Linked DNA regions of Homo sapiens. The protein of the gene in region 2 purifies or fractionates together with the protein of the main gene of each other region. This does not show direct contact. Each region holds a gene or a part of one and is shown on either strand. Other genes may lie near its edges. The genes, in order: SLC12A9, NPC1 and PI4K2A.

The links.
Region 1: the proteins of NPC1 (region 2) and SLC12A9 purify together in Homo sapiens (affinity purification with mass spectrometry, with the first as the bait; one large-scale study listed by BioGRID). This does not show direct contact.
Region 3: the proteins of NPC1 (region 2) and PI4K2A purify together in Homo sapiens (affinity purification with mass spectrometry; 2 studies listed by BioGRID and IntAct, with this or other methods). This does not show direct contact.

Annotation. Positions count from the first base shown.
Region 1 is NC_000007.14:100,859,203-100,862,851, reverse strand, and holds part of SLC12A9 (solute carrier family 12 member 9), read right to left. Parts: intron 2,968-3,649; coding exon 2,810-2,967; intron 2,703-2,809; coding exon 2,620-2,702; intron 1,715-2,619; coding exon 1,590-1,714; intron 1,461-1,589; coding exon 1,268-1,460; intron 1,116-1,267; coding exon 941-1,115; intron 172-940; coding exon 25-171; intron 1-24. UniProt on the Homo sapiens protein: May be an inhibitor of SLC12A1. Seems to correspond to a subunit of a multimeric transport system and thus, additional subunits may be required for its function. May play a role in lysosomal ion flux and osmoregulation.
Region 2 is NC_000018.10:23,584,281-23,588,029, reverse strand, and holds the start of NPC1 (NPC intracellular cholesterol transporter 1 precursor), read left to right. Parts: upstream 1-1,523; 5' UTR 1,524-1,686; coding exon 1,687-1,743; intron 1,744-3,749. UniProt on the Homo sapiens protein: Intracellular cholesterol transporter which acts in concert with NPC2 and plays an important role in the egress of cholesterol from the endosomal/lysosomal compartment.
Region 3 is NC_000010.11:97,674,196-97,676,976, reverse strand, and holds the end of PI4K2A (phosphatidylinositol 4-kinase type 2-alpha), read right to left. Parts: 3' UTR 543-2,781; downstream 1-542. UniProt on the Homo sapiens protein: Membrane-bound phosphatidylinositol-4 kinase (PI4-kinase) that catalyzes the phosphorylation of phosphatidylinositol (PI) to phosphatidylinositol 4-phosphate (PI4P), a lipid that plays important roles in endocytosis, Golgi function, protein sorting and membrane trafficking and is required for prolonged survival of neurons.

The DNA.
Region 1 (3,649 bases), on a different chromosome or scaffold from region 2:
GGCATCCAGGGAGAAGCAGCTCACCGAGGCCGGAGATTCGCAGCAGATGCTGAGCCCCCTGGCGCACGGAGGGTGAGAGGGTTAGATCCACAAAAGCCTTCACCTGGGCACGGTCCACCAGGCTGAGCCATGCCCCATACTGCGGCTGTACAGGGTCCGAGGGCAGGGAGTCTACAGAGAAGATAAGGAAAGGAAGGTAGCCAGTGTTGTCCAAACTCAATGTCTCCTAGAGTCCAAATCACAGACGGGCCTGGGCAGGGCTATGGCTACTTGGAGGGGTCATGGGAAAGGATAAAAGGGGCAGAGGGGCTGGTGTCGGGGCTCATGCCTGTAATCCCTGCCCTTTGGGAAGCCAAGGTGGGAGGGCTGCTTGAGCCAGGAGTTCCAGACAGCCTGGGAAACATAAAGAGACCTCATCTCTACAAATGAGCCAGGCCTGGTGGCACACACCTGTAGTCCCAGCTACTCAGGAGGCCAAGGCAGGAGGATTACTTGAGCCCAAGAGGTTGAGGCTGCAGTGAACTATGATGGCACCACTGCTCTCCAGCCTGGGTGACAGAGCAAGACCTTGTCTCAAAAAAAAGCGGGGGAGGGGTTCTGGCCGTGGTGGCTCACACCTACAATTCCAGCACTTTGGGAGGCCGAGATGGGCGGAGCACTTGAGGTCAGGAGTTCGAGACTAGCTTGGCCAACATGGTGAAACCCCTTCTCTACTAAAAATACAAAAACTAGCCAGGCATGATGGTGTGTGCCTGTAATCCCAGCTCAGGAGGCTAAGGCAGGAGAATTACTTGAACCTGGGAGGTGGAGGTTGCAGTGAGCCAAGATCGTCCCACTGCACTCCAGCCTGGGCAACAGAACGAAGCTCCATCTCAAAAAAAAAAAAAAGGTAGGGGGAGAGAAGGATGGGAGTGAGTGAGTGAGTGGGAGGGCAGCTCACCGAGGTCTCCCAGGGTGACGTGGCCCAGCACATACAGCCCCCCCTTCTTAAGCTGGTTGGCCAACCGCAGCAGAGGCAGGGCGCCCCGGGGGTTCCCCACCAGGAGCAGCAGCTGGGGCCGCCAGAACTTCACGTGATCCTTCCGGACGTCCAGCCGAAGCAGATACTTACGCACCTGGGTATAGGGGTGAGGCAGTGGGGAAGTGGCAGGATCAAATGCACAGCCCCGTTCAGCGCCTCCTGGACGGGAGCACCAACTCCAGCCAAAGAGAGAGGGGGTTCTTTGACCACCTCCCATTTCCCCACCGCCCCACCAGCTCCCCATACCTGGTGGAAAAGCAAGGCCTGGCTGACATAGCCCCAGCTACTGGGGCCTCCTCGCGCGGTGAGCAGGGCAGCCAGCAGACCCATGAGGAGCAGGGAGCCACCAGCCGCGCCAGGACTGATGAGGAACATCATGAGCAGGCAGGAGGCCACCCCCAGCAGGCAGGTGTGCCAGGAGAACAGGCTGAAGGTGGGGCTGCGGGCATGGAGGGGAGGAGGGACAGAAACTCAGGGCAGGCCGCACACGAGGCTGCAGTCCCCAGCCCCACGCCTGAGCCCGAGTCCTCCCTTCTTCTCTCTGGGGACACAGATCTGAGTCTCTCACCGGAAGTTGGGGGCCGAGGCCCACTCCAGGCTCAGGCAGGACAGGTCCACGGCAGCATAGGCCACCAGGTAGAAGACAGTGACCACAGCAGCCAGTGTGTTCAGCTTCCCAGCCAGGAGCACCAGCTGGGCAAGGGCCAAGAGGCGTGCCGTTGTTCCAAAGTGCCAGTGCACCCCCAAAATGCCAGTGAACACCAAAGAATGCCAGTGTACCCCAAAGTGTCAATGAGCCCCAGAAAGTGCCAGTGAACCCTGCAAAGTGCCAGTGCACCCCCAAAGTGTCAATGAACCCCCAAAATGCTATTAAACCCCAAAAGTGCCAGTGCACCCCCAAAGTGTCAATGAGCCCCTAAAATGCTATTAAACCCCAAAAGTGCCAGTGTATCCCCAGTGTCAGTGAACCCCAGAAAGTGCCAGTGTACCCCCAAAGTGTCAGTGAACCCTGGAAAGTACCAGTGAACCATGCAAAGTGCCAGCGCACCCCCAAAGTGTCAATGAACCCCAGAGAGTGCCAGTGCACCCCAAAGTGTCAATGAACCCTGAAAAGTGCCCGTGAGCCCTGTAAAGTGCAAGTGCACCCCCAATGTCAGTGATCCCCAGAAAGGGCCAATGCACTCCCACAGAGTGCCACCAAACCTCCAAAGTATCAGTGAACCCCCACAAAGTGTTGGTACATCCCACAGAGTGCCAGTGAATCCCTCAAAGTGCTGGGGCACCCCACAAAGTGCCAGTGAATACTGAAAAATACTAGTATACCCCAAAAAGTGTCAGTGAACCCTGCACAATGCCCGTGTACCCCAAAAAGTGCCAGTGAACCTCCCAGGGTGCCAATGAACTCTGCAAAGCACTGGGGCAACCTGCAAGGTGCTGGTGAACCCCACAAAGTGCCAGTGAACCCTGCAGAGTGCCAGTGCAACCCCAAGTGCATACGCATTTGTCTTTACATTTGTCTCCCAGCCTGCATCTAACTGCACCCCCATCCTGCCAGCTGGTGGGGTGAGGGAAAGGGCCCCTTGAAGAAGAAGGCTCACCTGCACCAGGCCCCAAGAATAAAGTACAGCTGCCCAGGGGTTTCCCCCTCGGGACACAACCTTGGCCGGTGCCAAGATCACGCCTAGAAAAACAGAATCCACAGCAGACACATCAGCCAGGGCTCAGCGGGGACGGAGAGACAGACAAGGGAGGGCGTGCTCCAAGCCAGCAAGGAGGCAGAGAACCCACCAAAGAGGTCATCCCGGGCCAGGGCATGGAGGATGCGGGAGGCACCAATGAGCGAGCTCATGGACGCTGAGAGCGCTGTGGCATAGATTCCGATCAACACCAGTGGGGGCCACAGGCTGATGGCGCGGAAGAACCCATAGTCTTCCTGCAGCAGGGTCCTAGGAAGGAGGAAAAGGAGGACACGGATGATCATGCGTCACGGGGTAAGAAAATCTCCAGCCCCGATCTTAAGGATCAGACTCAGATATCAAATGTGCTAAAGGGATATGCCTGGTATTCATTGGGCAGCCTTGGATTTAATCACTCAGTGGTCATTCCTTCCTTTTTTTTAAGAGACAAGGTCTCACTCCAACCCCCAGGCTAAAGTGCAGTGCTGTAATCATAGCTCACTGCAGCCTCGACCTCTTGGACTCAAGCAATCCTCCCACCTCAGCCTCCCAAGTAGCCAAGACTACAAGCATTTGCCATCACACCTGGCTAATTTTTGTATTTGGGGGGAGGCTCTTGCTCTGTTGCCCAGGCTGGTCTGGAACTCCTGGGCTCCAGCGATCCTCCTGCCTCAGCCTCCCAAAGTGCTGGGATTACAGGTGTGAGCCACCGCACCCGGCTGTCATACCTAATGGTATATGCACAAGAGGCCAAATATTTGTGGAAATGCAAACTGGGTAGAAAGCCACTACCCACCCTCACTCCCAAGCTAAGTGCCTGCAACAGTACTGGGTCCATGGCAGCTGCTGGCTATAGGTTGTCAATCGCCGGTAGCCACCCTCCACCCCAACAAGCTGGGTTTCTGCTTCCCAGTCCCCCAGCCTGTGTTTCCCCTTGGTGACCCAGGTGCAC
Region 2 (3,749 bases):
TCTTCCCCAAGGAGGGTTATGGAAACTTAGAACCTTCAAAGTAATTTATAAACTTGGAAATCTTACTGTAACATTTTCTTCTACCTCTCTCTGTCTTTGAGACAGGGTCTTGCTCTATCACCCAGGCTGGAGTGCAGCAGCATGATCATAGACAACTGTAGCCTCCTGGGCTCAAGCAATCCTCCTGCCTCAGCCTCCTTAGTAGCTGAGACTACAGGTGTGTGCCACTATGCCCAGCTAACTTAAAAAAAATTTTTTTTTTGTATAGAGGGAGTCTTGCTACATTGCCCTGGCTGAGAATTTACATTTCTAACAAGTTCCAAGGAGATGCTCCTGCTGCTGGTCTGGGGATGGCCGTTTGAGGATCCCTGCATGAAGGCATACACAGGACTTGATCCTCAGTGGGGGCACCAGGAGCTGGAGCCTGGGGAGTGGGAAGCGAGAGCACAGAGCTGACTGAGGACCACGAGGTCGTCGTGGAGGACCTAGGCTGAAGGTCCTGAAGAAATCCCCATAGTTTCACTGCCAGGCCAGCCAGGTGGACATCTCAGGGCTGAGGAGGTGAGAAGGCAAGACAGAAAGTGAAACAGCACTTTATAGGATAGGGATGGGAAGGTCATCTGCATCATGGGACTCCTTGGGGAGGGGTTCGGTCATTGCTCCAGATGAAGGTTTAGTCTTTTCATCGTAAATTTGCTTTCACTGTTGGGAAAGAGATCTTCACCTCCATTTTCTTAACTTCAAAATGGAAATGACAGATGCTTTTGAGTGGTCTGAATACTTGAAATTTGAGGGAAAACGTTACCAGAAACACATACAACTAGAGTTAAAGATAAATACATATATCAAACGCATGGCTCAAAAATGACAACGCGTCTTCTTTATCTGCCTTCACGTAGAACTTAAAACAGACCCTGGTCCCCACCTCGGGGTTTCCTCGCGCCCACGGGCTGCGCTGCGCAGCTGGGCCAGCAGGTGGCGAGGCTCCCGCACTTTTTTTCCCGGGCCTGGCCGCACCGCCACCGCCCACCCCGCGCTCCGCCCCGCCCCGCCCCGCCGCACTCGCGGATCGTCACACGGTCAGGCCACCGCGCGTCACCGCCCCGGGCTCTGCTAGAAAGTGCCGGGGTCCAGATTCCTTTCAGGTGACTGGGTTGGGAGGAGAAGTCGCTCAGCGTAATTGTCGGAGCCGAAATAAACAGAGACTCCGCGGCCGGGCGGGACCTTACCCGGAAGTCCCCCAGAACAGCACTACCCTTCGCTGAAACCTCGCCCGCCCCCTCCAACCCAGAGACGAAAAGGGAAAGCATCACGGCCAGAAACCGTTGGCACAACTCCACAGATACTCTCCCGGGCCGAGCCAGACTCCATAAGTCCCGCGCCTGGCCCCCGGGGATTGCAGGGGCTGAGGAGAAGGGCAACACGGGGACCTTGAAGCGGGGTCGCGGCGGCGCCCCAGCCCGGGCCAGGGAGTCCCGGCAGCGGCACCTCCCAGAAAGGGCGGAGCCGACGACGCCTTCTTCCTTCCTGACCGGCGCGCGCAGCCTGCTGCCGCGGTCAGCGCCTGCTCCTGCTCCTCCGCTCCTCCTGCGCGGGGTGCTGAAACAGCCCGGGGAAGTAGAGCCGCCTCCGGGGAGCCCAACCAGCCGAACGCCGCCGGCGTCAGCAGCCTTGCGCGGCCACAGCATGACCGCTCGCGGCCTGGCCCTTGGCCTCCTCCTGCTGCTACTGTGTCCAGCGCAGGTGAGCGGTCGCCGGCCACCGGGACGCCCTGTGGGGACGTGGCGGGGCCGAGAGCCGGGGAAGGCGACGGGCCCAGCGACGGCTCAGGCCCGGGTCCTGGGGAAGTTGGTCTGGCGATGGAGAGCTCGGAGGTTCCTCACTTGTCCTGTTTCTGTCTCCGGCCACGCTCTCTTTCCTGTGGTCTGGAAGAGGGTGGCAGTGGGGGCTTGGGTGACCTGTTCTGAGCTTGTTCCATCTGTGGTCACCTAATTTCTCTGTGTAGGATGTGGCACCAGAAGAAGGGAGGAAAGTGGGTAGAGTGGGATAGGGACACTACTTGCTTTTTAAAAAATTCTGCTACATGCGCACGAACTCCAAAATTTAGGAGCTCTAACCACTTTATTTCCTCTTCTCATCACCTGAGGATGGAGGTGGAAGCAGAGGTAAAGAGACACAAACTTCCTCAAGCACCCGGTGAAACTGCCTTGAGTACTTGACATAAGTCAGCTTGGTCTTCTAAAGAGGGCAGGTTACTTTTCATCAACTCCTTTTTACACCTCAGGACACTGAGACTCACAGGGCGGTATTGAATTTCCCCTTGTCACTATTAGCCAGCGACAGGATGGGGCCTGGAACTCGGTGTCCTGCTGACTCCTTCTGGGGGCTTTTGCTTGGTTTAATAGCTTTGGGAAAGAGCACCTCAGTATTTGTGTGTCTGTAGTTTCCTCTTTTAAAACTGGAGTGGGGCAGTGTCACGCTGTGACTCGTTAAACCAAATCAGGATGAGAGTGCCTCCGGGGAATTGTGTCCTTGTGCACATTAACGCCCCTCACATAGGTGTGGCGTCAATAGGAAGTGGTGAATCAGGGGAGAGGGGGTTCCGTGGACTAGAAAAAACTCTCCTTCGACTTCTATTTAGTTCTCAGAAGGGGATAGGTGATGTTGATCCAATAATGGACTAAGAGCCAGGAGAAGGGCTCCGCGGGAGGATCTCTTGAGCTCAGCAGTTCAAGACCAGCCGGGGCAACATGGTGAAACACCGTCTTAAAAACATTTTGTTTTTCTTTTCATTGTTGAGGTTGAGGCTGCTGTGAGCTGTGATCACGCCGGTGTACTCCAGCCTGGGCAACAGAGCAAGACCCTGTGTCAAAACAAAAAAGAGAGAGAAATAAATAATAGCAATTATGTGCCGTAGAGAAAATGTGGCTATTCTGTTTCCCTAGAGTTTTTTAAAATTTATTTTTAAAATTTATTTATTTTAGAGACAGGTTCTTGCTCTGTTGCCCAGGCGTGGGGGCAGTGTCGCCATCATAGCTCACTGCAGCCTGGAACTCCTGGCCTCAAGCAGTCCTTCCACCTTGGCCTCCCAAAGCACTGGGATTATTGTGAGCACCACTCCTGGCCCCTCCTAGAGTTTTAGATCAGGACCTTAAATAGGCTTCCCTTTTTTTTGGAGACAGAGTCTCTGTTGCCCAGTCTGGAGTGTAGTGGCGCAATCTCGGCTCACTGCAACCTCTGCCTCCTGGATTCAAGCAATTCTGGTGCCTCAGCCTCCCAGGTAGCTAGGATTACAGGTGCCCACCACCACGCCCAGCTAATTTTTGTATTTTCCGTGGAGATGGGGTTTCACCGTGTTGGTCAGGCTGGTCTCGAAATCCTGACCTCTAGCGATCCGCCCTCCTCTTTTGGGGATTACAGGTGTGAGCCACCTCGCCCAGCCAGGCTTCACATTATTAAGTAGCCATCTCTTAAGTATTTTTTAAATCTCAAGTACCCAAGGCTGATGGCCAATGAGTGCTTCTTTTATGACATTTGGGATAGGTCAGAGGTTTGTTGTAAGTCTCTTGCAAAAATGCCTGGAGGCCTTTTCAAGGTCTGTAAACCTTAACTGGAAATAATCCTATTATTATTTTAAAAATTCCTCATGTCTGAAAGCTTTCAGTGCACCTGAACAGATTGGGGTGGAGCCATGAAGCCAAACAGATTGGGAGAGAGAGTGTGTCTGCTTTTAGAATTCGTACCGATGA
Region 3 (2,781 bases), on a different chromosome or scaffold from region 2:
GGCTCCACCTCAAGAGAGGCATACTCTGTGCTTATTAGCTTTCTTCTCCCTCTCCACCCACCCTATATGCTTGATTATTCAGGGTTTGAAGTGGGGCAGTGATGTACACAGGGCAGGGCTGCCCTCTGGTGGCCAAGAGGAGGAACCACTACTACCTTGAGTCAGGTAGGTCCTCTTTTTTATTTTATTGTTTATTTATTTATTTATTTATTTTTATTTACTGAGAGACAAAGTCTTACTCCAGGCTGGAATGCAGTGGTGCAATCTCGGCTCAGTGCAACCTCCAACTCCCGGGTTCAAGTGATTCTCCTGCCTCAGCCTCCCAAGTAGCTGGGATTACAGGCGTGTGCCACCACACCCAGCTAATTTTTGTATTTTTAGTAGAGACGAGGTTTCGCCATGTTGGCCAGGCTGGTCTCAAACTCCTGACCTCAAGCAATTCACCCACCTCAGCCTCCCAAAGTGCTGGGATTACTGGTGTGAGTCACTGCACCCAGCCTGTAGGTCCACATTTCTTATCCCAAGCCCTTGGCACTAGATTATTTTGGAATTCAGATTTTTTATTTTTGGCTCTTAGGAAGTAGTCAGCAAATACTGTATAATCCCTAGTAGGGAACCATGTCATAAAATATATTGACATTTCTGCAACAAAGAATCACACTAAAAGGAACACATCATAATTACCCATAGCTTCCTATCAGTGTAAGTTCAGGTCAGGTTTGGTTTCAAATGGGTTATGAAAATACTTTTGGTTTTCAGAGCATTGGGACTTTGGAAATGAGGACCTGGATCATCCTTTATTAGGGAGAAATAGCCCCAGGAGCCACGTCTCAGCAATTCCATGGAAACACAGGTTTCTTTGCCCTCAAAATTCCGTTCCTACCTTCTTTGTCTTCCTTCCCCCAAAGAAACTGGACAAAAAAGGTCAGAACTGTATTTGTTATTCATACATTTGCGTTGATTTAAATACATTACGTACAATTTCTACATTGGATTAGAAGAATGACACAGGGGGCAGCAACACTCTCGCAGCCCAGCCTCCATTCCCTGACACTGGAGGCAGGGCCTATGGCTGGCAGAGGGACGGTGTTCCATGAGTGCCACTCAGAAGCCTCCCCCGGCATTCTGGGCCCCTGGCTCTTCCAGAGTCCACATTCAAGGCAACCTGAGCACAGGCTTGAGGGAGAGTGGAGAAAGGCCAGGAAAGGATGCCCACACTCTTGCCTGCCAGGCCCAGGACCAGCTCTCTCCTACACTGGACCCAATTTCCTTCTGATCACAGAGCTGGTCTGGATCAAGACAATGTGGAGATCTGGTGTGGAGGCTGTGGCCAGGTGAGGCAGCCGGGCTCCCTGTTAGACCCCCAGGCTCTCTTGAGCACCAGATGGGCACTTTACCAACAGGTTTGGGTAAAAATGTCTACAGAGAGCTATGCACACCTGGGTCCCCTTCTGGCTCCTACAGTCAAGGGGCAAGTGTTCTCTCGAACATTGTTCCCAAGGCCAGTGTCCGAGTCAGCTGCATGTGATTGTCGGGGCTGGGATTGGGGCAGGCAGGCGAGCTGTACCTTCGTCCACAGGGCATGCACATCCAGCTCTCAGAAATTCTTCCTGTCAGCCAGGTGGAAGCCCGGGACAAGTGGACTCTTGGTGGCTGGACTGGAAGGGGACCGGCGGGGACCAGCCTGGACCAGCTGACCAGAGGGCTGCACATCTCTGCTCTGCAGCCGGGCAAGCAGAGGACATGCAGCCATAGTCCTCACTCCCTTTCTTTGGTTGTTTTTCAAACCTTCAAGATAGTTACTTTCTGAGGTTGACTGACCAATCGCAAGGTGCCAGAATTGTGAAATGTCCAGTAGCACAGGGCATGAACACAGCTGCCCCTCCAGACACAGATGGCACCCTTTTTACTCCCTCCTGAGGCCGTACTTTGCTTTGGTGTAGAAATGGCTCAAACACCTGGCAAGTGGGGGTGGGGAGTGAGGCAGCAGGGGAAAAGACACATGGAAGCAAGAAGATACGCACTGAGCTGCGCAGGACCTGGGACAGTTTGAAGGCCTCTCTCCTTTGGGCCTCACCTTTCTCAGGGAAGCCATAGAGAAATCGGCCTAGGACAAGTCAGAGAGAAAAGGGAAACTGCCACTTATGAGGCAGAATCCACGTCCTGTTACTTCCACCAAGCAGCAGCGGTAGCACAGAAAAAAGTCCAAGAACCTAATAGCCTGTCCTCTTGGAAGCCAAGACTCATCCCAGAGCCCTTGCAGAGACCCACTCCCGAAGACAAACTGAACTCTTACATCAAAAGAGTTGGGGGGAAAAAATTTAAAACGAGAGGAACAAATGAGAAGATTGGGACCAAGGACTCAGGAAGCAAGGTGGGATATGTTCACCCATAGACCACTTAGCTCCCGGCATACACTCCGGCTGCGTGGATCACTTTTACATGCTGGGAGTCAACTTCCTATTAAAATATAAATGCTAAGACTAGCTCTTCCTGCCTCTGCTTGAGAAACAGACAAGCTGTAGGCCAGCAGAGAGCAGAGAGGTTCTCTATGATTGTGTGCGGAAGTGCTGGCGGGGGTAAAGCAAAAACCTCCCTTCCAGGAGAACTGTTTCGAGGCTTGCAGCCAGCCCACAGCACTGATGGGAGATGGAGGAGGCTTGGCAAAAACCCAAAAGAAAGGTGTGGCTTCTGTCTGTCCCAGTGCTGTGGTACTGCGAGTCATCCAGTTGCCCTCTGACACCACCTTGGCTCATGGGAGGAAGCAACTGCAAGGCAGCT